Linked DNA regions of Homo sapiens. The protein of the gene in region 4 purifies or fractionates together with the protein of the main gene of each other region. This does not show direct contact. Each region holds a gene or a part of one and is shown on either strand. Other genes may lie near its edges. The genes, in order: SPECC1L, NUP155, C12orf43, SLC30A6, SLC2A6, ZNF239 and SLC34A3.

Region 1 (2,204 bases), on a different chromosome or scaffold from region 4:
GGTGCAGCTCCCAAGCACTTGCAGGTCACAGTGCAACTCCTGGCTTACTCAGGGCCAAGGCAGTTGCTGGGCTCCCAACCCTGAGGAGTCTCCACCTGGGAAGGGCATTCACTACATGCCCTCGTGTGCAGGAAGCACCACCACCATGGGCCTTTTGCATGTGACGTGGACAAGGTGGTAAGTGTTCTCCAGGCCAGCTCAGTGCATTCACAATCACTGTAGTGACTCACACCTGTAATCCCAAGGCTCTGGGAGGCCAAGGCGAGAGGATTGCTTCAGCCCAGAAGTGCAAGACCAGCTTGGGCAACATGGCGAAAAGCCCATTTCTACCAAAAAAAAAAAAAGAAAAAATAAATAAACAAACTGCTGGAGATGGTGGCACACACCTGTGGTCCCAGCTACTCAGGAGGCTGAGGTGGGAGGATTGCTGGAGCCCTGGAGGTTAAGGCTGTGGTGAGCCGTGATCGACCCCGTCTCGAAAAAACCAACAAAAAACAATGCACAGGCAAAAAAGTTTATCTGGTTGCCTCTGGGTAGGATACCTTTTTTCTTTTTCTCTATTTTATACATCCTGACAATTATTTCCAAGATGATACATGCCTCAAAACAAACAAAACCCCTCGAGACACACTCCCCAGCCCCCAGGGAAGGCATGTGTCTGGGCTGTGTAGGGGCTTCCGCTCTCCTGGGGGTAGCTCTGCCACGGTCTCTGGGGTCTTGGCATCTGTCACAGAACCCTAGTGGTTACAGGGCTCACTGTCCCACAGCCCCAGGCCACACGGTGATGTGCTGTGGCCCAGGGGAGGCCACCCTGGACTCCTGGTCAGGATCTGCCCACATGAGGAAGTGCGCCTTGGGGTAGGGCCACAGGCTGGCTCAGAGGTGCCCTTCTCTCCACAGCCAGTCCCAGGAGGGAGCTGGGTTCTGGTTTATGCGACGTCAGAGGGACGGCAGGGAGTGGAGGGCAAGCTAGAAAAGCCCAAGCTTGTTGTTTCAGCCATTTTAATACATTCAAGAATATTTACTAGAACAACATTTAAACGTATCGTCGGTCCGCAGAAGCCTGGGATCGAGAGAAATAGAAACGCGACTGGCCCTTTTGCAGTAAAGCTTGTGCTTGAAGGGAGAAGAGGCAAAGTGGCTTCTTGGAGACTTCGTGCCAGATGCCACAGGACTGAGAGCATCTCCAAATGTCACTTTAAACACGTGTGAGCATCTATAGTCATTCCTAAAGCCCACAGTGTCCTAAGGATCCTATTAGACGAGGCAAAAGGCAATGCTTCTGGAACCCTCTCCCTTGCAGCTCTGCACGCAAACCTTCCCCAAGGAGGGGCCCGAGGCAAGCCTCTAGATAGGCGGGGCCAAGCCCTCCCCGTGCCCACCCTCTTTCCCTGTTGCTGACCTCAGGCCTGATGCTGGACCCATGAGACTCCCAGAGGGAAAACACAGATACAGCCCATCCATCCATGGCCACCTTCCTCCAGAAGATCCTGGGGACCCCTACCCCCCCATCCCATGAGGCACCAGGGCTGGGCTCGCATGGCCAGCAAGGGATAAAGTTGGGAACTGCAGACCAGGGGAAGCCCCCTCATTCTTAGGGCAAAACAGCCCCTGAAGGACAAAATAAATAAACCAAACCATGACCAGACAGCTGGATCCGGACAGGTGGAGTGGCCTCTGTGAAGGCAAATGAGAGCAAAAGTGGGAACTGAGGACACCTAAGTGGAGAGACACTTAAAAACAGTAATTCTCACATGAACATCAGTGGCTCATGCCAACAGCAGAGCTGGCCATCAACAGAGGAACAGCAACAAAAACACAACTCAGACAGGGGGCGGGACGGGGCCAGGAGTCTGCGGGGGTCTCTGATATGCTTTGTGGCATGACTTTGCTTGCCTGGCCTCTCCTTTCTTAGCTGAAAACAGGCATTTCACCAAAGGGCATCCAGCCAGCGGCAGCAGCCTGAGCTCCCAGGCTGACATCTGGGCAGGGCTGATGGGCAGCTTCTGGCCATCTGGTGACCAGGTGTGCCGCCAGCTGCACCCACATGCACAGCCCCTTTCCTAATAACCACATTCTAGGTTACGTAGACACGTTAAACTCCTATTCTAGAACATCGTGCTTGAATGCAGACCCCTCAGCCCACAATCGGGCTGGCTGGGCCTCCTGTGAGCCCCTCATTGCATCCAGTCTGTGGGGCAGTG
Region 2 (4,060 bases), on a different chromosome or scaffold from region 4:
CCTCCCCGTCTCAAGTTATCCTCCCACCTCAGCCTCCCAAGTAGCTGGGGGTCCAAGTGTGTGTCACCATGCCAAGCTAATTTTTGTATTATTGTATTTCTTTTCTTTAAGAGGCTGGGTTTTGCCATATTGCCAAGACTGGTCTCAAACTTCTGGGCTCAAGTAATCTGCCCACTTTGGCCTCCCAAAGTGCTGAGACTATTGGGCTGAATTCATATTAAAGCAAATCCAGGCTGGGCACAGTGGGTGACACCTGTAATCCCAACACTTTGGGAGGCCGAGGCGGGCGGATCACATGAGGTCAGGAGATCAAGACCAACCTGGCCAACACGGTGAAACCCTGTCTCTACTAAAAATAGAAAAATGAGCCAGTGGCGAACACCTATGATCCCAGCTACTCAGGAGGCTGAGGCAGGAGCATCGCTTGAACCTGGGAGGTGGAGGCCGTAGTGAGCCAAGATTATGCCAACTGCACTCCAGGCTGGGTGACAGTAAGACTCTGTCTCAAAAAATAAATAAATAAAGCAAATCCAGACATCCCATTTAATCCTAAAACATAACTTTAATAGGCCGAAGGTGGCAGATCACCATGTTAAATGGCAGTGGGAACACAGAGGGAGGAATCGATAACTTTAGTGAGGATGGGAATGCTACGAAAGACTTCAGGCCAGGAGTGTGACTTACATCTGTAATCTCAGCACTTTGGAAGGCTGAGGTAGGAGGACTGCTTGATGCCAGGAATTTGAGACCAGCCTTGTAACAGAGTGAGACTACGTCTCTACATAAAAATTAAAAATTAGCTGGGTGTGGTGGCAGGCGCCTGTAGTCCCAGCTACTGGGGAGGGCAAGGCGGGAGGACCACTTGAGCTCATGAGTTAGAGGCTGCAATGAGCTGTGATCATGCCACTGCACTCCAGCCTGGTAACAGAACTAGACCTTGACTCAAAAAAAAAGAACAAGAAAAAGAAAGACAACAAAGAGAAACTAAGGACTTTCACAGGGAGTCTGGAAAAAGTTTGTCAGGCAAAAAAAGAACATTGCAGAAACAATAAAAGTAAGATAAAATCCTGAGGAAATCCTGAAGATGGGGCTTCTTACGGAAAATATGCTAAATTCTCTGTAATCAGAGCAACGGATGAAAAATTGGATGGAAAAGAAGGGGAAGAGACTGGGTGAAAGAGGAAGGTGTGTGTAAAGGCATGAGATATGTAAGAGAAGGACCAGAATGCATGCACTGTTTTTATATCTTGTTTTCACACCTAAGGAGGCCAAAATGAGTAATGTTGTTCAAGATGATAATTGCTAATAGGCCAATCAGGTATTATAAGACACGCTCATTGGTAAGTAGCTGTAGGGAGCAAATACTATCTTTGTTTCTATCATTTCTTTGATTACAAAGCTATCAATGATTTTTATAAATAATCAGAAGTGTTCTCGGTTTACACTGCACAAATTATCCTATTTAGATTACTTTGGTTCTTGCTCACCAACAATCTTTTCTTTCTTACACTTCGCTGGTTTTCTCCAAATTCCATCTCACAAAGGGGTCACTTTTTCTAGCAACTGATGTAATTCCATAAGCCGTGGGGAGCTGGTTATAACTTAAAACTGTTAAACAAATTACTTTCCAGTCACCTATATTGTCAACACATATTCTGCCTTACTCTCCCTGTACATAAGCACTGTGATTTCCCTGTTCTCTTTCTTTATTCCACTGGTAGTTCTTTTAAGATCCTCCAGCATTTCATAACACACATCTCTACACATAATAAAGCGTTTCTTGGCCGGGTGCAGTGGCTTGCGCCTGTAATCCCAGCACTTTGGGAGGCCGAGGCGGGCGGATCACTTGAGGTCAGAGTTCGTGACCAGCCAGGCCAATATGGTGAAACCCCGTCTCTACTTAAAAAACACAAAAATTAGCCGGGCTTGGTGGCAGGCGCCTGTAATCTCAGCTACTTGGGAGTCTGAGGCAGAAGAATCGCTTGAACCCAGGAGGCGGAGGTTGCAATGAGCCGAGATCGCGCCATTGCACTTCAGCCTGGGCGAAGAGGGAACCGCTCCGTCTCAATAAATAAACAAATAAATATAAAGCAAAGCGTATCTTTAAGATAACATGCTAAATTTCCAAATTAACTTCGTTTGCTCTTACGATCTACTCAAACACTAACAGGAGAAATGAACAAATTTGGGACTTGGATCTGGAGATGCTTCTCATATGGCCTTAGCCATAAGCACTTGAGAGCGGCGAGAAGCTCATTAAGGTTGAGGTCTTTGCCTCTTTCTGCTTCAACTGGGAGCTTGCTCTTCACTCTTGCCCTCTCAAGTATCTACAATGAAGAAAGTGAGGAAAGGAAAAAACCTGAAAAGAAGCTGCTTGCTGTTCTCCAAAAATGCAGCCAACAGTGCCATAAATCTCAGCATATCCTCGCCGGGACCAACGCTGGGGATAAGTAGCAAATTAGGAAGTCAGGCGAGAGTCCTTTAGGTTGAGAAAGCAGGGTCACTATCACTCACTTGGGGCAGACACCATAAGCAGCTCGGAAAGGTCCGGGTACATGCGGTCCTCTTGCAACTGACGGTCGATGAGCCGTCCAGCATTTTCCAGAGCTTCCTGCAGGGCTGCGGCAGATGTAGAGGCCGGCATCGCCGCGCCCAACAAAGAAGACGGCATCTCGGAAATCGTAGACACCAGGGTCCAGAAAAAGTCAAAAACCAAGGAGAAACAAGAAAAGATCCAAGAAGTTAGCTTAGATCCGCCGCCTAGGGCGCGCGCGCCAAACGAGCGCCTTGGCGCCTCGACATGACGCACTTCCGCTTCATCCGGTGGGGAACTGGAAGACGCCGTTCTGGCCTGGGAAGAGGAAGCTGTTGGGAGGGGGCTAGAGGTTGTGGGTGGAGCTAGGAGGCTGCTGATGCTTTCGAGGGGGTTGAGGGTTTTGGGGTGTGGCAGGGTAAAATTAGGGTAGGTTATTTAGGGAAGGGAGGGAGGGAAAGGAAGGGAAGGATAAAGGGGAGGGAACAGGGAAGGAGAGGGGCGGGATGGGGTTGGATAGGGTGAGGAGGAAGGAGGGAGGAGGGATACGGTAGGTGGGAGCTAGGTCGTGTGTCTGGCCTAGGAGGTTGGTCAGGTTCCGTTGGTTTAAGCGCGTGCTCGACCTGAGTCTTGGAACTTCCCGCGTCGGTATCCGCTAACTGCAGCTATATGAGTTCGCGCATGAGCGCGCAGTTTGGTTCTCCAAGTAACTGCTTTTGTGAGAGTAGTTAAGAATTGGTAGGTCGCTGTCACAGAGAGGGATATAAACCAGTATCTCACTATATTCTTCGCGGGCTTCAGTGTAAATTAGAATTCATCAGGCTTTTCCATTTGCGTGTCGCTGTCTTTTGACTTTGTTGCCCCTTAGTATAAAATACGTGTTTAAGAAGAAGCTGAGTGCAGGTGGACCGCTGCCGTGCTTTTTATCGTGGCAGAGATAGCAGACAGTTCTAATTCATCTTTCCATTCCCAGCGCTAGTATAGGAACTCGTATGAGATAGGAACCCAAGAGTTCATACAATCCTAAGAAACTGAATACTTGCCTTGTGCCTGGTGCTGGGACTATCAAACTAACACAGTGTTTCCTGTCCTTAAGGTGCTTCAAGCAGAGACAAAGGGCTTCATTATAATTTTTCTATTTGGATAGGTATAAACTATAGCAGGATAGGAGAAAGCAGAGAGGTAAAAGAGGCTTCATTTACTACAGAAGGCAACCTGAGTGGGTAAATCAAAGCACTTTTTAGAAAGCTGCTCTTATTTAGAATCTCACCTAAGAAAGCTTCCAGTTATGTTCTTCAGAATTTCACAAATCAATAACTGAATTACTCTAAATTGGTCTTTTGCTATTTGAATTACATTTTTACTCCCTCAAAGACTTGACTACATTTCTGAAAATTGAAAGTTCTTTGATGTTACCAATCTACACTTAAAATTTGACATAGCCAATATACCAAGAAAAACTGGATTTTTTATCATTGGTATATAGATAGGCAGTTGGGTCTCTAGCTGTGAGTTTACTTTATTTGG
Region 3 (3,251 bases), on a different chromosome or scaffold from region 4:
GGCTGGTCTCAAACTCCTGGCCTCAATTGATCCACCTCCTTGGCCTCTCAAAATGCTTGGATTACAGGCATGAGCCACTGCACCCGGCCACAAGCTTCTACTTCTTGCAGAATGCCTTTGTCCCATGAAACCTAGTCCACGAGTGCTATGACACTTCCTGAAGTCTTGGGTGGGGTGAACGCACAAATCCTGGGGGTGTAGAGAGGAGGAGGATGTTTACTTAAAATGTCTTAAGGTTCAGCATTGACAGAGAGGCAATATCCAAATCACTCTAAGTTTTGTTTTGGGTCCTCTGACAATTGAGTTTCCATAATCTGGTCGGCTCAGAGACACCATCATGTGTGGTATATTCACAAATGCAGACAAAGAAAATTCTAGAAAGCCAGGGGTGAAAAAGCTCTCCTTTCTCAGACGATTCTGTGAAGTCTATGTGGGCTAAGGAGAGAAGAACAAAAGTTTCTCTGGGCCTTGGCCTCTTGGGGATCCCTTCTCTCATTTTCTAAAAACTGTTTCTCACACCAGGCTAAGGAGGTGGTGGGGAAGGTCTCCCTTCCCCTGCCCACCTCAGACAGTTCTAGGGAGATGGAGGTTTCACCACTTGGCCACTAGTCTCAAATAACTGGAAGGTTCCTTTTTTCCTGAGGTCATGAAATGTTCTGGAACCACAGCGCCCCCGCCAGCCCTCCGTGGGAGCACAGAGGGGCAGGCCTTGATTGGTCTTCTCACCCTACAGCCACTTTTTTGGCCCAACTCTCGAGCAAGCCTTCATCACCATCAGGGTCTCATGGGCAGTCTGGGTTTGCCAGCCCAGTCCTTGAACTTGGAGAGGGAGGTGGGGCTTGGAAATGCCTTGTCCCCAGGGTGGGGGGGACACCTTGTCCTTGGAGCTGGCTGAGCCCTGTGCCCATGGCTGGGTTCAGTTTGCAGGTATAGCTGTAGCACTCTTTGCTGGTGGGAATGGAGAGGTCTCGCTGGCCTTCTTTGCCTTTTTCTTCTTTTTGGTCCCAAGCGACACCTGGTCCCCGTTGAGCTCACCTGACTTCTGCTTCTGGACTGTGGCCATGCTGGTGGGGGTGGTGGCAGCGACAGCCGAGTCGACACTGGCCACCTTCTTGGCTTTCTTTTTCAACTTCCTTTTCTTCTTTGCCTCCTTCTCCACTGTTCCAGGGCTGTGGATGGCTGACTCCTGTAGGATGTCGGACGCCGACACAGCTGCCTCCCGGCACCGCCGCCACTCCTCGTCACTGTCCTCACTGCTGCAACGAGAGGGTACCCTGGGTTAGCTGGAGTCAGGACACAGCCCCAGAGCTGCCTCTCGCTGTCCTCCCTTGGTCCAGGTCACCAGAAGGTGGCCGCAGAGAGAGGCAGGTAGTGAGTTCAGGCTTGGGAGTGAGGCCAACCTGGCTTCCAATACTGGCTTCTGGGCGTAGCAGCCTTGTGACCTCCTTAAGTGACTTAACCTCTCTGACTGTATCATCTCTAAAACGGGGATCTTAACAGAGTCCAGGCCTCCCAGGGATGTCCCAGGAGGCAACTATGATCAAGTGAGGTGTCTGGCCCAAGACAGGTGCTCAAAAGCAGTAAACATCCAAAGCTGCCGCCAAGAGGGCTTTCCCTCCCGCTGAGCTCATGATTTCTCCAGCTGCCTGACAGGGCCACTGCCTTGGCCTGGTCCTGACTGGAGTCTGCTTGGCTATTCCAGGGAACCCACCAAGACAGAAGAGGAGAAAAAAGGAGGGGACGTGAGGAGAGGTGTGAGTTCTCACCTGGAGCTGGAGGGCTGTCGCTTTCGGCGGGGTTGGGGAGACTCTTCCTTCTCACGGCCTCCAGGGACAGATGTGAAGAAAAGGCGGAAACCTAAGATTCAATGGGGCAGAGTCAAACAAAAACAAAACAAAACAAAAAGAAACATAAAAAAATAAAAAATAAAGAAACAAAAAAGAAAAAAATTTTAAAAAGGAAAACGAAAGAAAGAAAAGATAAAGAGAAACAAAAAAAAAATTTTAAGAAGACACAAAATAAAAAAATTTAAAAAAGAAACAATAACAAAAAAACCCAACCAAGCAAACAAACAAAAAAAACAAAGGAGCAGAGTCAGCACCCCCAGATGCCAGCCCCTCCTCCCAGGTGCCAGGTGCTGAAGCTGCCCCGCCTCTGCCCTCAGGAGCTCCTGGTCCAGAGGCAAAGACCCAGGAATCAGTCGTCTAACTACAAAGTGATTCTGCATCTGCCAAGGGTCATGCTGATGCCTGATGGAGCCAGTGGAGGGCGCGCTGGAGCAGGAGCCAGCAGCCACATCAGCTCAGCAAGCCCTCAGAGGCTTCTGGAAGTCAGCACTTGAGCTCCTGACCTAAGGCAGCCTTCAAAGTGGCAAATGTGTTGGTACAGGACAGACGCAGATGGGCGAGGCTGTGGAGGGCAGCAGTAAAGTGCTCCTGCTCAGGGTGACACAGACGAGGCCGCCTCAGGCAAATGACTTCGTTTCTCAGGGCCTCAGTCTCCTTGTCTGTACATGGGGTTCAATCATAATACCTGCCTCACCACAGGGGCTGAGCAGATGAAAGAATGGTGAGGTGGCCCATGCCTGTAACCCCAGTACTTTGGTAGTCTGAGGCGGGAGGATAGCTTGAGGCCAGGAGTTTAAGACCAGCCTGGGCAACATGACAGAACCCTGTCTCTAAAAAAAAATACAAAAATTAGCCAGGTGTGGTGGTGCACGCCTGTAGTCCCAGAACTTTGGAAGGCTAAGGTGGGCAGATGGCTTGAGGCCAGGAGTTCAAGACCAGCCTGGGCAACATAGCGAGATCCTGTCTCTAAAAAACATAAATAATTAGCCAGGGGTGGTGGTGTGTGTCTGTGGTCCCAGCTACTCAGGAAGCTGAGGTGGGAGGACTGCTTGGGTCCGGGAGGTTGAGGCTGCATTGAGCTATAATTGCTCCACTGCACTCCAGCCTAGGTGGCAGAGAGAGTTCCTATCTCAAAAAAAGAAAAAAAAAAAAGAATATACCAAAACTGTTTCGCCCACCTCCAGACACACATTAGGTGCTTAATAAATGATAGCTTCTATTAAGTATAACCACTCACCATCATCCTCCAAAGCGACTTTCTGTACCTTAGCTTTTGCTGGCTCCTTTGCTGCTTCTGAGATGGTAATGAAGCTACAGGGAGACGAGACGGTTGATTTAAGATGAGATTTTTGGATAACGACAAAAACAAAATTCTTTTTCAAGTGGAGGGGATGGGGTATGTGA
Region 4 (3,500 bases):
CAGGAGTTCAAGACCAACCTGGACAACAGAGTGAGACCCTGTCTCCAAAAAAAAGAAACGTATATATGTTTCATATATATTGCAACTATGTGATTTTCATATATATATGAAAAGAGAATTGTATGTATCATATATATGAAAAAACAATTGTATTTCTCAACCACAGAGCTGCCAACTATATGGACCTTATCTATTCTGATCAGTTTAATTCCACAAAGTCTGACTTGTCCAGTATATCGTAAAACAAATACCATTGATATTTATACAGATTTATAACAGCGTTTACCTGTAGCAAGATACTGTTAATGCTAAAAGTCCTTACTTATCCTTTGTAAGATGGAGCAACAGTAGATGGGACATGGGTGATGGGGCTAGTAACTAAGTTCAGATTCTGTATCTGGAAACACCAAATCATTAAAGCAGACCACTTTACCTTCCCACCTCTTAGTCCCTCTACGTATTGAAATTACATACTGATAATACCAAGAACAAATTAAAGGTGAATGTTATCGTTGTTCTTTTTAGGGGAAGATTATTAGTTGGTACTTTTGTGGCTCTTTGTTTCAACCTGTTCACGATGCTTTCTATTCGGAATAAACCTTTTGCTTATGTCTCAGAAGGTATGTTTTTTATTTACTATTAATTTAAAAATCCAACTAATCTCTCATAAAAACAAGCCTTTTGTTTGTTTCGTTCACTCAGATCAATGAAGAAGTATATTCTGAAGACAAGAGAGAACTAGCCCAAATGTTCTCAAGTCTTTTTTAAGTGGAAAATTATAAAACAAAATCTCATTAGTTCAAGCTTTAAAATAACAAATTATTTTAAAACAGGCAGGAGTGACCTGTAAATTAAATCATGTGGTGATGAAAAATTACATTTACCAAATAATGTGAGATTCTAAATGTGTAATCTATCTAAGAAAAGTCTATTGTAAGCATTTTAGAAGTATCAGTATACTTAGAATTCTTAGTTGATATGCTAATTGAAAATAATTGTATTCTGTTAATAAAGTAAGTTCCCAGGAACTTCTCTTTGGCAATGGTGGATGGGCATATATGTTTGCAAGTAGCCAAACTTTATTTCTTTGGAAATATTCTTTTATTTTGAAGTATTTACAACTTCAGACTGATTTTTCACTTTTGCAGTCTAAATTATTTTCTTTTTTCAATAATTTCAGTGTTTTGGAATCCCACTAACCCACAAAAGAGTTAGCCACTAAGAGATGGAGAAGTGAGGTGAAAATAGAAGTGGGATGTGTGCACAGACCCACACTTTGAAGTATAGAGAAGCACAGATAGGTGTGGATCTTTTTAGATCTCACTCTAGGATAGTCAAGAGAAGAAAGTTTTCTGAAATGCCCATTCAAGTTTAAACAACTTCATGAATGTTATGAAGATAAATTGTGTTTGTATGAGTTAAAGAAGTACTGCATGAATTAGAAAATTAAATAATGATAATTAAGATCACTAGAATTTCTTGAAAAAAATTCATAATTTATAAAATACTATAACACTTACTCTAGAAATTTTTAAGATGGTGCAAAGATTTAGAAACACTGTTTCCCTGTAAAGATCAGGGAGATACAAGAAGGAAATAAGACTACTGATAATCTTATGACCCACAGATAATATGTTAACATTTCTATGTTATTCCTTCCACTTTTTTGTATGCACACGTACATATAATTTTATGTGCTTACTTAGAATTGTATATATTACAGTTTTATGCCTGGCTTTTTTTTTTTTTTTTTTGAAACGGAGTCTCACTCTCTTGCCCAGGCTGGAGTGCAGTGGCGCAATCTTGGCTCACTGCAACCTCTGCCTCCTTGGTTCAAGGGGTTACAGGAATGTGCCACCATGCCTGGCTGATTTTTGTATTTTTAGCAGAGACGGGGTTTCCCCATGTTGGCCAGGCTGGTCTCACTCCTGACCTCAGGTGATCTGTCCACCTTGGCCTCCCAAAGTGCCGGGATTACAGGTGTGAGCCACTGCGTCCGGCCATGTCTGGCTTTTTGATTAGCATTATGTCTTCAGTATTGCTTCTCATTAAATACTCTTTGAATGTAAATGATTTTTTAATGTTTGCATAATATTGTTATGAATATTTTAAAATATTTTATACATTTCTAACTTTTCCTTTTATAAATAACTCTATAATCAGCCTCTTTAGATCAACTTCGTCTGCATTTTTTATTCTTTCTGTAGGATAAATTCCCCGAGAAGGAATTATTTACTGGATTAAAAATACAGTATTTTTCAAAGGCTTTGTTGTATATTGCCAAATTTATTTCCAGAAAAGTTATCTAGTTTATATTTTTATTATATTATATTATATTTATTTATTTATTTATTTTTTAATAGAGACAAAGTCTACCTGTGTTACCCAGGCTGGTCTCAAACTCCTGGGCTCAAGCAGTCCTCTCACATCAGCCTCCCAAAGTGCTGGGACGACAGGCGTGAGCCACTGCTCCCAGCCTACTTTATATTTTCATTAGCTGGAAATGGAGGTTCCCAGAAACATCAAGATTTGTGACATTAGCTGGGCTTGGTAGCATGTGCCTCTAGTCCCAGCTACTCAGGAGGCTGAGGTGGTTGTATTGCTTGAGTTCAGGAGTTTGAGTTCAGCCTGGGAAACATAGCAAGACTCTGGCTTTAAAAAAAAATGAAGGCTGGGTCTGGTGGCTCACACCTGTAATCCCAGCAGTTTGGGAGACCAAGTCAGGCGGATCACAAGGTCAGCAGTTTGAGACCGGCCTGGCCAACATGGCAAAACCCTGTCTCTACTAAAAAATTATAAAAATTAGCCGGGCATGGTGGCAGGCGCCTGTGATCCCAGCTACTTGGGAGGCTGAGGCAGGAGAATCCCTTGAACCCGGTAGGCGGAGGTTGCAGTGAGCCGAGATCACGTCATTGCACTCCTGCCTGGGTGACAAAAGTGAAACTCCATCTCAAAACAAAAAAAAAAGAAAAAAGATTTGTGAAATTACTTGAAATTTGAGTGGGAAATAATATTAAGTACTTTCTATATGCCAAGCACTGCTAAATACTTTACATAGAATAACCTATTTAATTCTAGCCAGGTAGGTACCCAGGTTCTCACCTGGCTTTTTTGAGAGTTGAGGGAATTAATTTGTATGTAGTTTGAATATCCCTTATCTGAAATGCTTGGGGCCAGAAGTGTTTCACATTTTAGATTGTCTTAGATTTCGGAGTGTTTGCATTATATGTATGGGTTGAGCATCCCAAACCTGAAAATTTAAAATTCGAAACGCTCCTATGAGCATTTCCTTTGAGTATCATGTTGGTGCTCAAAGTTGTGGATTTTTGGTTTTCAGATTTGGGATCCTCAGCCTGTACCTATGGCCCGTTCTCAGCACACTAGTTAGGAAGCTCTGCTTAAAAGTATAAAGAACTGCTGGGCATGGTGGCTCACACCTGTAATCCCAGCACTTTGGGAGGCCGAGGCAGGTGGATCACCTGAGGTCAGGAGTTCAAGAC
Region 5 (4,098 bases), on a different chromosome or scaffold from region 4:
CACGAACGCCTGGGGGAGCAATCTCAGACACGTACACCTGCAAGACACAGCCGCCGCACCAGGTTTTGCTGAAAATACTGGTTCCTAGGCCCGGCCGAGATGGGAGAGTCAGCCCCTGTGAACCCCGGAAAGTGGGAAGTGGAGGCTTTCTGGTGGGGCTGAGTCCTGGTCATGACTCACTGCAAGACCTTGGGCGGCCTGCCTGATCTCTCTCTGTCCTCAGTTTCCCTAACTGTGACGTGGGTGGAAGTACGCAGCTCGGAAATGGGCAGCATGACGCTGGGAAGGAGGCCCGAGGGCTCCCAGGCTTCAGGGCTGAGCAGGTGAGTCCATGCCTCCCAGTGAGTTTTGTCTCCTCTGCTGGGCTCACCACCAGGCCCCGTGTGGAGTACCACATAAGATAAGAAGGTCCCGGGGAGGGTGTAGGGCAGGGACTTCCCTCTCCTACCCATTGCTCAATGCGGATTTTCTCCAATTGAGTAATACATCTGACCGGTCAAGAAACGGGGTAGAAGGCTTGGAAAGTCCAGAGTGGGGGCAGCTGGGGACCTGGAGACAATTTCCCCCAAATTAGCTGCCCTGCTGGGGGTGAGCTGAGGCGCCCTGGGCATCCGCAGGGAAGGCAAACAATTCTCATTGCCCAGAAGGCATGGAGGCTGGGAGGCCTTAGTCAGATGGAGGCTCAGCACCAATACAGAGGCATTGGGGCGCCTGGGTGGGAAGGCCTGGCCTTACCGGGATGCAGGCAGCTGTGAGCCCCCCGGCGAAGCCCGTCAGCGTCCTTCCGAGCAGCAGCATCCAGAGGCCGTGCGCACCCGCCATGAGCGCATAGCCGGCCGCCGACGGCACAGCTGAGAACATGATGCTCAGCTTCCGGCCCAGGAGGTCGTTGAGGATCATGGCACTCAGGCCTCCGGCCGCTGCTCCCAGGGTGAACACGGACTGCAGGGGAAGGGGGTGCAGGGCAGATATGTCTGGGCACTTGGCACCCCAATCTCATCAGAGTCCAGGGACAGCTTCTTCCCTAGGCCGACCCCAGGAGCTGGTCAAGCACTTGGCCAAGTCAAGCACTTGAAACAGGGAGCCTCCTGTCTTCAAGGAACAGCCATTTGTTAGGGATGCCCAAACGGGGAATTCTGCTCTAAGGAAGAGGTGCTGCGCCACATATCCACAGTGGTTCTGTCCAGCCTGATGTTTAAATGTCTAATATTTTAATACAGGAGAATTCTGTGACTTGAAGGTACTGGGCTTTAAGATTTGGAGGTTCTTAAGTTCCCTGTACAGCAGCAACTGGGACCCCCTCTGGACTCTGCTAACTGGTAGTGGGACCTGGGCACATTGCCCAGCCTGTCTGCACCTCAGTTTCTTCAGCTGTCTTATGGGGAGAGCGCAAGTTCTACCTCGTGGCGTTGGCCCTGAGAATCAATGAACGTTCAGTGCCCAACACATGCCTGGCACATAGGAAGTGCTCAGTAAACCTTGGGAATTTTTATCTTAACTACTATGTTAACAACTCTACATATGAGGCTATTAAGATTATAATTTTAGACTCTGGGACTCTGGGATCTTCCTCTCCATCAGCCCACAATCTGTCCTGCGGACTCTCCTTGCCCCAGCCAGTGCCTCTCCCCACTGACACCTGATACCCTTGCCCCCATCCAGCCAACTGTGGGTGTGGGGACCCGGGGAAGCCTCAGCCCCACCTAGTATAGACCCTGACAGCCACCTCCCCACCTGCTCCTTCCCTCACCCTCTCCACTGGCTTTCAGTTCCTCATTTCAGAGGAATCCTGTAGCTTTACCCCACCCACTAGTGGCCTGGATGGCTGGGGGAGGGGGGACCAGGGCCCTGGAGGGACCCCCAAGGTGGAGAATTTGGGAGGTTCCTAGCTGGAGATAAGGCTCAGCAGGTCCCTCCTTCCTGCACCCACCCTCCTCCAGAGGATGGTCCTTACCCCAAACCAGGATGCCTGGGATTTGGTCAGATGCAGGTCAGGATCCAAGGAGCGCTCCAGGGCTGGGATGACAGGGGATGTGTAGACCAGGGCATACCCAAAGCTGAAATTGCCGAGCACTGCGGCGAAGGTGGCCAGGAACACCCTTTTGTTCTGCAGGGTCCTGGTGATGGTGGCGGACAAAAAGACCAGGGTCTCTGAGTCCCTCCTCCAGGGACCATTGCCTTTTCTGAACCCAGTGGCTGCCCGGCTCAGCGGGCAGTGCTAGGGAGGCCTGGGTCCAAGGCCATTCACGTTCCCAGGGCCTGAGCCCCAGCTCCCCTGGGAAATTCCCAGGCCATTGTTAGCTCATCCGCAGTGGCTGAGCCTCTGGTGCTGGGGCCTTTTCTCCGGAAGAGGAGGCTCTGGTTCTGCCCCCAGGGCGGCGGCTGGAGGCTTGCTGTGTGACCTCAGGCAGAACCCCTGCTCGCTGGGGCCTCAGTCTCACTGTCTGTGGCAGTGGGGGGCTGGGCCCGGTACTCTCGTGGATCGTTCCTTCCCTTAGGGGGACCAGTTCCTTAAATAGGAGTAGCGTGTCTGGGACAGGAGGGAGCCAGATGGCCCCTCGGTGGCGACTAGGTCAGGGGAGGCCCAGGGCGGGAGCCTGCCGCCGGCTGGAGGGAACCAGGGCCACCCCCAGGCCCCACCCGCAGCCCCCAACCTAGCGACTCTCACCCGACCCGCGCCCTGTCCCCTGGCGACGGGGGCGGCTTCTCGGGGAAGGTGTCGTAGTCCGGGCCCTCGGCTCCCAGCAGCGGCTCCTGCATGGCCGGGTCTCTCTCGGGGCGAGCGGAGGGCGCTCAGACTGGAGCAGCCGCCCGGGGCCAGCAGCTCCGAGGGCACCGGCCAGGCTCCGCCCCTTGGCCGCTATTGGCTGTGGGACGGCCCTGCAGAGACACGCCGGCCAATGGGGCGGCCGCAGGCTGTCCTGATGCTCGGATGCGGACCCGGCTTCCCCGGGCGCGGCCGGCACCGCGTGCGCCCCCGAAGGTCACGCCCCAAGACAGGATGGGGGTCCCAGGGCGGAGCCCCTGCTGGATCGTCCGGGGCCCCCGCGGAGCGCCGGAAGCGGCTCACCCGGCCCGGCTCTTGCAGGCGTGACTGCGGCAATGCGCGCAGCCCCTGTCGTACTCGCTCCCGCGGGGTGGAAACCGAGGCCCAGAGAGGCGAAGCCGAGCGCCAGGGTCACAGCGAATGCGCACCTCGCTCCTCCTTACGCTCTAGCCCTCCCCGTCGCGTGGCGTCTCAGGGCCACCTCTGCCCTGGCTCTCCCTGGCACCAGGGAATCGGGGTGTGTCAGGGCAGCAGCGGATGTGCGGGACGAAGGAGGCAGGAGGGGCCGGCGAGGCGCTGTGGGCAGCTCCAGTGGGCGAGGTCTGTATCCTCCACCCCAGGCTCTGGTGGTAGAAATAACCTGAGCTCGTGACACGTAACCCAGGTAGTAAGATAACATTGAAAAATAAGAAAAGCAGAAATGGAAAATTCCCGGGAAGACCGTCCTCAAAAAATCCCACAGCAGTTCCACCTCTCCCTTTGGGCCTTTTCGGGAAGAGGACGGAATCACGCCCTGCTCTGTTGGATGGACGTGCCACACACGCTTTTAAACGGAGCCTTTGTTGCTGAGTATTTGGGTCATTTCCCATTTTAGCTATTAACATGGTAAAGCATTTTTAAAAGTTAGAATTCCCTTTTATTATGATTGAAATACAACCATAATAGAACAATAAAATCACATCCATCTCCCGTCAGCCTGACCTTGATGGCGTTTTAGCCTCTTCCAGTCTTTTCCTCATGTGCCTATTTTGCATATTTGCTATTGGGGCCCCCATTAAACTGTGCAGCCCCTTTACGTCACCGTTTTCTTGCCATCAAGATCATAGGCTTTGGACTCAGGCACACCCTGGTATGGTGATCAGGCTGCACAGTCCTCGTGGCCATATATATACGTATATACATATATATGTGTATGTATTTTTACATATCTATATGTGTATTTTTTTTTTTTTTTTTGAGACGGAGTCTCGCTCTGTTGGCCAGGCTGGAGTGCAGTGGCACGATCTCAGCTTACTGCAACTTCCACCTCCCGAGTTCAAGCGATTCTCCTG
Region 6 (3,500 bases), on a different chromosome or scaffold from region 4:
TGCAGTTACAGTCAATGGGATCCAAAGATTCTTTTAACTGGCCATTCTGGCAAGTTGCCTCACCATTTAACAATGGCGAGGCCAGTTCTTGTCCATCAGACACCAGTTTAACTTGAAGGTTCTCTGAACAACTTTCCCCCTTTATCACTTTTCTCTCAGTGCTTTCTTCCATTACAAAGAGACGTCTGCTTTCCTGATGATCCTGAGGCTCATTCTTACAGAACTTCACTGAAGAGTCTTGTGTGTCTATTTGGCTTGAGACTTTCAAAGGCAAATATGTTTCACTTTCAATGTTTTCGAAACAACCACTTTGAAGAGTCATCACACTGTCCCTGTTTCTGGAAATAGGAGAAGATGCTTCTCCCCACTGTTGACAAGGGGAAATATCTAGTTCAGGCTCCCCATCCACTTCCCCTCGATGATTCACAATACAATCCTGACTTCCAGTAATTGTACTGGCCATGCCTTCCAAAACTAGCCAGGAGGAAAGCTCATGTAACAGATCCTGAAGTGTTTTCTGCTGAAGATTCTCCACAGAATTTTCATTCAAGTCTCCTAGGGAACAAAGACAATTCAGTGGTAAGAACAAAGGGTAGACTTCAAGATTTCAGAGTGAGAGTGCCTAAGGCCTGAAGTCTTAGTAACTAGGAAAAAGTTCAGCTTGTCTTTATAGTCATGTCCTTTGGGTTAAGGTCAGGTACATTTGTATCTGGGTACAAGACAGAAATTTTCTCTTGGCTTTTAAGCATAGCCAAGGAAAGTCTTCCCTAACTAATCCTATAGAAGGCTGTAAGTCCTATATCCTTGCTAACAATAACATTTCATCTCATCTCACTTCATTTTTTTTTTTGAGACAGAGTTTCACTCTGCTGCCCAGGCTGGAGTGCCGTGGTGTGATCTGGTCTCACTGTAGCCTCCACCTCCCAGGTTCAAGCAATTTTCCCACCTCAGCCTCCCAAGTAGCTGGGATTATAGGCACATGCCATCATGCCCAGCTAATTTTTGTATTTTTAGTAGAGGTGTGGTTTTTCCATGTTGACCAGGCTGGCCTCCAACTCCTGGCCTCAAGTGATCCATCCGCGTCAGCCTCCCAAAGTGCTGGGATTACAGGCATGAGTCACCACACCCGGCCTACTTTCCTTTAAGTAAATTTGCATTTAATTGGTATTCTGCTTTCATAGGTGTGGGGAATACAAGGAAGAAAATATAAATCCTTTTGCTTAACAAGCTAAAGCTTCCTGGGAAGACAAATACACCAAATAATGATAATACTAAGTGAGTGGTGTAGATGAATGTATAGTACAATACAGTACAAGAGATGTATGCCTAACCAGCCACGAAAGCACAGCAGAGGAACACTCAACTCAGACCCTGGTGTTTAGGAAGATTTCTGGGAGAAAATGACAGGAAAAACAAAAAACAAACAAAAAAAAGGAAGTGAAATGTGGAGAGAAAATATGACATGTTAAAGAAAACTACAAGCGGCTTCTTACGAAGGAGATAAAAACAGTAAGAGTGGTGAAGAATGTGCCACGGAGGGGAAGTAAGAGGACAGAGCAAAGGGCTTAGTGTCTAATAATAAGGACCTTGGGGCTAAACCCTGAAGGGATTGAAAACTATTAAAGAATTTTAATTCAGAGTGAAATGACTGACTTTGTGACAATAAACACCACTGGAAAGCAAGACTTTAGGTAGCGAGACGGCTGCCATAGCAAATCAGAAGAAAAACGGTAAGGATGATAGTTGTGGAGAGAATAGGAGAAATTCATTCTAGATCATGTGATGATAAACTAAACCTAGAAGAGAAAGGAGGCACCAAGCCTGTTCCTTGGGATTCCTGCCTGAGTGACGGTATGGTGGTGCTATATAATCAGATAGGAAATGCAACAGGAAGAGGCTGAAGTAGGGAAGGCAGCAGAACTGCCTTGTATAATCTGTGGTGTTGGTGGAACATTCTTGCAGTACTGGTCCGTAAGCTGTGAGATATATATAGGTCTGGAACTCCTGTGAGAGAACTGTGCTAGGAATACAGAGTTTAGACTTACTGGTATATTAAAAAACAAAAACAAAAACAAAACCCTCCCCGAGACTTAAACAATTAGAGTGAATAGCCTAATATTACACTGAAATGACAAGAAATCCATAATACTCTTGGGAAAACAGAAAGGCTGATATCATCAGAATAAAAACATTGAGGAACTCCTAAATGATAAGGAGCAGATGGATTAGGAGTGATGGAGGAACTAGGGGAAAAAAATGTACAGCTCAAATTATGTATAACAGAAGGCTTCTTCGTGGGTAAAACATCCTAAGAAATCATAGAAATTCAATTACCAAACTCAGAATCAATAATTACAAAGTAAGGGAGCACTGACCCCATTTCTCTGGAGTCTATGTCTCAGAAAATAATAAACAATGATAAAGTAAGACATTTCCTAATTCAACTTAGGCATTCCTAACAGCTGTGCTAGTTTTTGCTGTTAGCAGCACTCTCCCAGCCCACCCTCTTCCTCTTAGAAATAGAAATATTGGATGGCTAGCAGCAGTGCCCTCATATAAAGCCTCAAGAATAAAATAAATGATCTGCCAAAGAAAGACTGCTAATAATATTAACTGGACTGAAGAGAGAAGCAGAGGTTGAGGTAATGTTGAACGTACACAATGACCAATGGATTAAGGTACAAAAAAGAAGTAATTGACAACATAAGTGCCCAGGATAAAACTTCAAGCTAAACTTTTTAATGGGAGTTCTGACAAGGAAGATAGCCCAGCGCTGGAAATAAAGAAGCAGGGCATGCCCCAGATAACTCAGTGGCAAAAGAGGTGGACTTAAAAAATGGCCTACACCACTGTGCAGGGGAGTACAGGGAATAGGAGGCCCACCTGAGGCTCAGCCCTAGCCCTTAGCCCATCCGTGGGGCCAGTTTACTGCCTGGGTAGTCCCCTTGCCCATGTATCCAGCTACAAAACAATTCAAATTTTTTCTTTTTCCCAAAATAAAACCTCAGCTAGCTCTGCCAACTGTCAAAAAAAAAAAAAAAAAAAAAAAAAAGGCCTATAATATCCACCATCTGGATTCTTATTACCTCCCTCCCTAGCCCAATCAGCAGAAGTGTCCCCTAAAGTAAAACACATATGCATGCCAAAGTGGGTCAAGCATGGGTTGAGGACACACTCCAATATCATGCTGAGAACACAAGAATTTTGAAAAAATATATAAGGAGACCAACAGAATTTAAAAGGTACATAATTAAAATCCCAGAAAAACTGGAGAGGATATCACATTTAAACACAATCTAATAATAAAATATAAACATATTGCTATGAAAAATAATAATTCTAAATAAAATGACTGAAGATGATGATAGGTTATGTCACTTGTTTCCTAGATATGTGTCAGGCTGTTTTAGTCAAACGCCTGCAATCTAGATGAGTTAAATAGTAAAATGAACACATGGCTAAGATGGAAGATTGAGGAATTCTCCAAGAATGCAAATGAA
Region 7 (4,196 bases), on a different chromosome or scaffold from region 4:
CAGTGCTTAATGAGACTGCTGTTAGTGGCGTTGCCTGTGGCACTGCTCATGATCATGTCGGAGTCCAACTGGGGGCCAGAGGGGTCGTGACGGTGTGCTGCACCCTCTCTCAGGACTCACCCGGGGCTCTGGCGCCCGCGGGGTCCAGCCCAGCCCTGCCCACTGCTGCCCTCTCCTCCCCTGTCCCAGGACAGGGCCCAGACCCTCCGCTGACCCTCCATCAGGGCAGGGCGGGCCTCCCCTCCTCCCATCCGGCCTGCTCAGGCTCTCTGGGCGGGGGCGGTGGCCGTCCTCACCTGCACGATGAGGTGTGTGAGCGGCTTCGTCAGCACCTTGAGGATGTCGGGCGCCTGCGCCCTGGGTGTCAGGCTGGCGGCACCCAGGGCTAGCTCACTTAGCCTCTCCAGCAGGGCCGTGGCGCTCTCCAGTGGCAGCAGGACCAGCACTGTGAGCCAGTTGAAGATCCCGTGCACCGCCGAGCCGCTGAAAGCCCTGTGGCCGCAGAGAGTGGGCAGGGTCAGGTGGGGGGGCCCGGGCTGGGGCTGCCACTGCAGCCCCAGCCCAGCCCTTCCACCCACAACTCACCTCTGAAATTCATCCCGGTCCCCTGACTGCGCCATTGAGACCAGGGTGCTGGTGATGGATGTGCCTACGTTGACACCCATGATGATGGGCACAGACACCCGGACAGTCAGCACTGCTGGTGGGGGGGCTGAGTCAGCCTGCGGCCCACCCTGCCCCCCCCACCACCCGGGGAGGGAGTGTGCACCCACGCTTAGCAGCCACCATGCTGACCACGATGGAGGAGGACGTGCTGGAACTCTGCACCAGGGCTGTGACCAGCACGCCAATGACCAGTCCAGCCACAGGGTTGGACAGCACCACGTTGTCCTTGAAGATGTCTCCGGCCACTTTGCCTACACCGGCAAGAGAGGTGCGCTGAAGCTGCGGAGGGCTGGTTGCCCGCCCCGCCCTGGGCACCCGTCCCGTCACTCACTGCCCAGCAGCTGGAAGGCGGAGCTGAGGACGTCCAGAGAGCAGATGAAGAAGTACAGGCTGCCGAGGAGCCCGCAGGCCTTGAGGACGCTGCCGGCCACGCGGCGCAGCCTGCCGGCCACGCGGAGCTCTGAGGACACAGGGCAGGCTGTCCCTGGCTGGCCCTCCACCCTGACAGGTCTCCCTCCCAGGCCCCTCATTCTCTGCCCCCTCTCTCCTCTGTCTCCAACAGGGCTGGGTCCCATTTCCTCCTCTTCCGTAACCCCCAGGGCAGGGCCCGGGTTCCTGCCTTTCCAAGCCAGAAGCCCTTGGGACCCTCCCTCGCAGGAGCAGGAGGGGAGGGACGGATGGGCAGAGGTGGCCGGTCTGCCCCAGGACAGCACAGACACCCGGTTGAGGGACACGTGTCTCCCCAGAGGGGGCCTGCATGGCGGAGTTCCCCACACACAGCCTGTTTGGGCAGGCCCCACCCTGCTCTGTCTCCCCAGTCCCGTTGGGGACAGAGGCCTGCCAGCCTGCCACCCCCGGAACCTCCAGACCCACCTTTCCAGGGCTGGCTTGTGTCCTTCAGCTGAGGGAGGGTCCAGGGGTCTGTGTCCCCTTCCTCCAAGACTGGAGCAGAACTGGAGGTCCCTGTGGAGGTAGAATTGAGTACGGCTGTTTCCAGGACCACCTCCCTCCAACTGGGGGCACAAGGGCACAGGCCGGAGGACGGGCTGAGGCGTAAGAGGCCTGGAGTGAGGGACAGAAACGGAACGGGGAAGATGGGGCTCCAGCTGGGCTGGACCTGAGTGGAGGCGTCATGAGCCCTGTGGGTTCCCCGGGAGGCCCGCAGGAAACCTGGCCTGTCTCTGCCCAGTGCCTGGGGGGTGGGTGGTCAGACTGGTGAAGGCCTGGGGCACAGGGGCCACTGGTACCTTCATTCCTCAGAGTCTTTTCCACTAGGTCAACCGCGTCCAGAGTGGGGTGGGGGACCTGGCTGCCGGGAAGGGAACTCGGCATGGATTTCGGGCAGGGACAGACCCAGGCCCAGGTCTAGATCTGCTGGGGGGGACGCGCGTGTCAGAGACATTTCCTCCTGCCCCGGCCCTGTCCTCACAAGCTGGATTCACACCCCTGGGTCCCCTGAATTGAGCCCTTGGCCGCCACCCTCCCTCTCTACGCCCTGCAGGCCTCAGTGACCATCCCCCTTTCTCCATCCACAGGGGGATGGCTACAATGACCTCAGGCAGTTGTCAGGCGAGCCCAGTCCAGTTTCAGGGGTAGACTCGAAGGGGCTCCAGCTCCCCGGCTCCCTTGCTGGTCCTGACTGGAAGGCTAGTGCCGAGGGTGCAGGCCATGAGCTGGGGAACCTGGGGACCTCCCCTATCTGGTGTCATCGGGGACACTGTGGATGGTCCCGACTTAGACTTTGGCATTTGATACTAAACAGTGACGTCTCGGCTTGATAAGGGCCCCACGCCCTGGTGATGGGGAGCAGGTGGGGTCCTCACACCACTTCAAGGCTCCTGGCCCCGAAGCTGCTGCCTTAGCCTCCTGGGCCTGGTCACCCCACCCCTGGGGCCCCCCACCTGGACCCCTCCACCTAGTGCCCTGGGCTCAGGTCCAGGCGTCCTGTGCCTCACCCTCCCTCCTGCTGCCCAAGCCTGGCGTCTCTTGCCCTTGGGTCCTGGAGACTCAGGATGGGGCCCAAGCCCTTGGCCTGGAGGCCACCCAGCCTCGGCCTCACTGTCCCTGGGCCTCAGCCTGGTCCTAGGAGCTCCTACCTGTGTGGGTGGTGAGGGGGCACCTGCAGGGAGGAGACACGGGGCGGGAGCAGTTGCAGGTCAAAGATCCCCTGATCGCGCACATGACCTGCTGGGTACTGAGCCCATTAATGTTTACCCAGGAGCCCAGGCCCTCACGGGGGTACCCTCCTGGCCCCAAGGCCCCTAGGCCTTGTCTCCATCCTGTCACTCTGTGGCTAGGACCTCCAAGCCCCAGCCCAACCCTCCTGGAGTGGGGCTCCTCCCAGGGGTGGGCTCTGAATCAGGCCGAGGGCACTGCGGGGCGGGGCACCGGCCCTCGGTACTGGGCATCCTCAGCAGGCATCCGTGTGACCCAAGAGACACACTCCACCCAGCCAGGCAGGATGCTAGAGTATGGCTGGGGCTGCCCGGGAGTCGAGAGACGCCAGTCCCCCACTTCCATGCACCTCAGGGCTCCCCAGACCTTCTCAGGGTCATCCCTGCCCTCGGCAGAGCAGGGGAGGGAAGCCCTTTGCACCAGGTGGTGGGGGAGGACGGGCTTTTTCACGTAGCCGGGGAGGGCACCCAGCCCGAGGTCAGAGGGTTCAGATCCGGGTTCAGGGCAGGGTTGGGCCCAGCAGGCTGCTAGCGGGCTCGGCCCTGGTATAGCCAGCGACGGCGGCCGGCAGCCTCCATCTGCAGAGGGGAGGACAGAGCTCCCCAGGCCACCTTCCCCACCCGCTGCCTGGCCCAGCGCACAGTTCTCCCCAGCGGAGTCCCAGCTGGCCCCACCGCCTGTGGGGTGTCCCCTAGGAGGACTGGGCCTCTTCCTGCCCTGGGGTGCGGGGCAGCTCCCCCAGAGGCTCACCCTGCCCAGGGGCTGCTGGTGCCCTGCTTTGCTTGCTGCCCAGCCCCCGCTGTGTGCATGGGGACTTTGCCCTGGAGAAGGTAGAAGCTTCTGAGTGTCCGCTCAGCAAATTCTCTTCCGTCTCCCTCCTGCGCCCTTGCTCTGGGGGTGGGGGGCAGCAGTCCTTCCCTGGGGCTCCTGAGTGACAGCTCGTTCCAGTGGGGGTGGGGGTGTTGCAGCACTGACTTGGTGGTAACTGCTGTCCACAGTCTGGCCCCAGCCCCAGCCCCGGCCCCTCAAAAGGGTCTGTGTGGTGGCTGCTCGGAGCCAGGAAAGGTTCAGCGAAGGATGAGACCAACTGGGCTGTGAGACCTCAAGCAGGCCCCAGCCCTCTGTTGGCCTCAGGCAGGCCCCGCCGAGGCATCCCCTTCAATGCCTGTATGGCTTCGTGCCTACACGAGACCCTCCCAGAACCGCACCCGACACACAGTGGGAACTCCATGAGCTTTGTTGAGTGGGTGAATTCACAGGGCTGCCATGCAGGGCAGGGAGGAAGGAGGTAGTCTTGCCACCCTCCCGGTACACCCCGGGGACGTCTGTGGGAGAGGGGAGACCTGCTCTGGGCA

The links.
Region 1: the proteins of SLC30A6 (region 4) and SPECC1L purify together in Homo sapiens (affinity purification with mass spectrometry; 2 studies listed by BioGRID and IntAct, with this or other methods). This does not show direct contact.
Region 2: the proteins of SLC30A6 (region 4) and NUP155 purify together in Homo sapiens (affinity purification with mass spectrometry; one large-scale study listed by BioGRID and IntAct). This does not show direct contact.
Region 3: the proteins of SLC30A6 (region 4) and C12orf43 purify together in Homo sapiens (affinity purification with mass spectrometry; 2 studies listed by BioGRID and IntAct, with this or other methods). This does not show direct contact.
Region 5: the proteins of SLC30A6 (region 4) and SLC2A6 purify together in Homo sapiens (affinity purification with mass spectrometry; one large-scale study listed by BioGRID and IntAct). This does not show direct contact.
Region 6: the proteins of SLC30A6 (region 4) and ZNF239 purify together in Homo sapiens (affinity purification with mass spectrometry; one large-scale study listed by BioGRID and IntAct). This does not show direct contact.
Region 7: the proteins of SLC30A6 (region 4) and SLC34A3 purify together in Homo sapiens (affinity purification with mass spectrometry; one large-scale study listed by BioGRID and IntAct). This does not show direct contact.

Annotation. Positions count from the first base shown.
Region 1 is NC_000022.11:24,416,035-24,418,238, reverse strand, and holds the end of SPECC1L (cytospin-A), read right to left. Parts: 3' UTR 501-2,204; downstream 1-500. UniProt on the Homo sapiens protein: Involved in cytokinesis and spindle organization. May play a role in actin cytoskeleton organization and microtubule stabilization and hence required for proper cell adhesion and migration.
Region 2 is NC_000005.10:37,368,307-37,372,366, forward strand, and holds the start of NUP155 (nuclear pore complex protein Nup155), read right to left. Parts: upstream 2,801-4,060; 5' UTR 2,672-2,800; coding exon 2,515-2,671; exon of another isoform or gene 2,360-2,514; intron 1-2,359.
Region 3 is NC_000012.12:121,003,237-121,006,487, forward strand, and holds part of C12orf43 (protein CUSTOS), read right to left. Parts: intron 3,159-3,251; coding exon 3,085-3,158; intron 1,858-3,084; coding exon 1,767-1,857; intron 1,257-1,766; coding exon of another isoform or gene 1,254-1,256; coding exon 917-1,253; 3' UTR 1-916. UniProt on the Homo sapiens protein: Plays a role in the regulation of Wnt signaling pathway during early development.
Region 4 is NC_000002.12:32,193,364-32,196,863, forward strand, and holds part of SLC30A6 (zinc transporter 6), read left to right. Parts: intron 1-525; coding exon 526-620; intron 621-3,500. UniProt on the Homo sapiens protein: Has probably no intrinsic transporter activity but together with SLC30A5 forms a functional zinc ion:proton antiporter heterodimer, mediating zinc entry into the lumen of organelles along the secretory pathway.
Region 5 is NC_000009.12:133,476,300-133,480,397, forward strand, and holds the start of SLC2A6 (solute carrier family 2, facilitated glucose transporter member 6), read right to left. Parts: upstream 2,801-4,098; 5' UTR 2,761-2,800; coding exon 2,669-2,760; intron 2,118-2,668; coding exon 1,955-2,117; intron 943-1,954; coding exon 736-942; intron 124-735; exon of another isoform or gene 38-123; coding exon 1-37. UniProt on the Homo sapiens protein: Probable sugar transporter that acts as a regulator of glycolysis in macrophages. Does not transport glucose.
Region 6 is NC_000010.11:43,557,617-43,561,116, forward strand, and holds part of ZNF239 (zinc finger protein 239), read right to left. Parts: intron 556-3,500; coding exon of another isoform or gene 464-555; coding exon 1-463. UniProt on the Homo sapiens protein: May be involved in transcriptional regulation.
Region 7 is NC_000009.12:137,229,505-137,233,700, reverse strand, and holds the start of SLC34A3 (sodium-dependent phosphate transport protein 2C), read right to left. Parts: upstream 2,801-4,196; 5' UTR 2,763-2,800; exon of another isoform or gene 2,622-2,762; intron 2,499-2,621; exon of another isoform or gene 2,038-2,498; 5' UTR 1,999-2,037; coding exon 1,914-1,998; intron 1,729-1,913; coding exon of another isoform or gene 1,630-1,728; coding exon 1,540-1,629; intron 1,127-1,539; coding exon 998-1,126; intron 918-997; coding exon 774-917; intron 698-773; coding exon 586-697; intron 493-585; coding exon 297-492; intron 69-296; coding exon 1-68. UniProt on the Homo sapiens protein: Involved in actively transporting phosphate into cells via Na(+) cotransport in the renal brush border membrane. The cotransport has a Na(+):Pi stoichiometry of 2:1 and is electroneutral.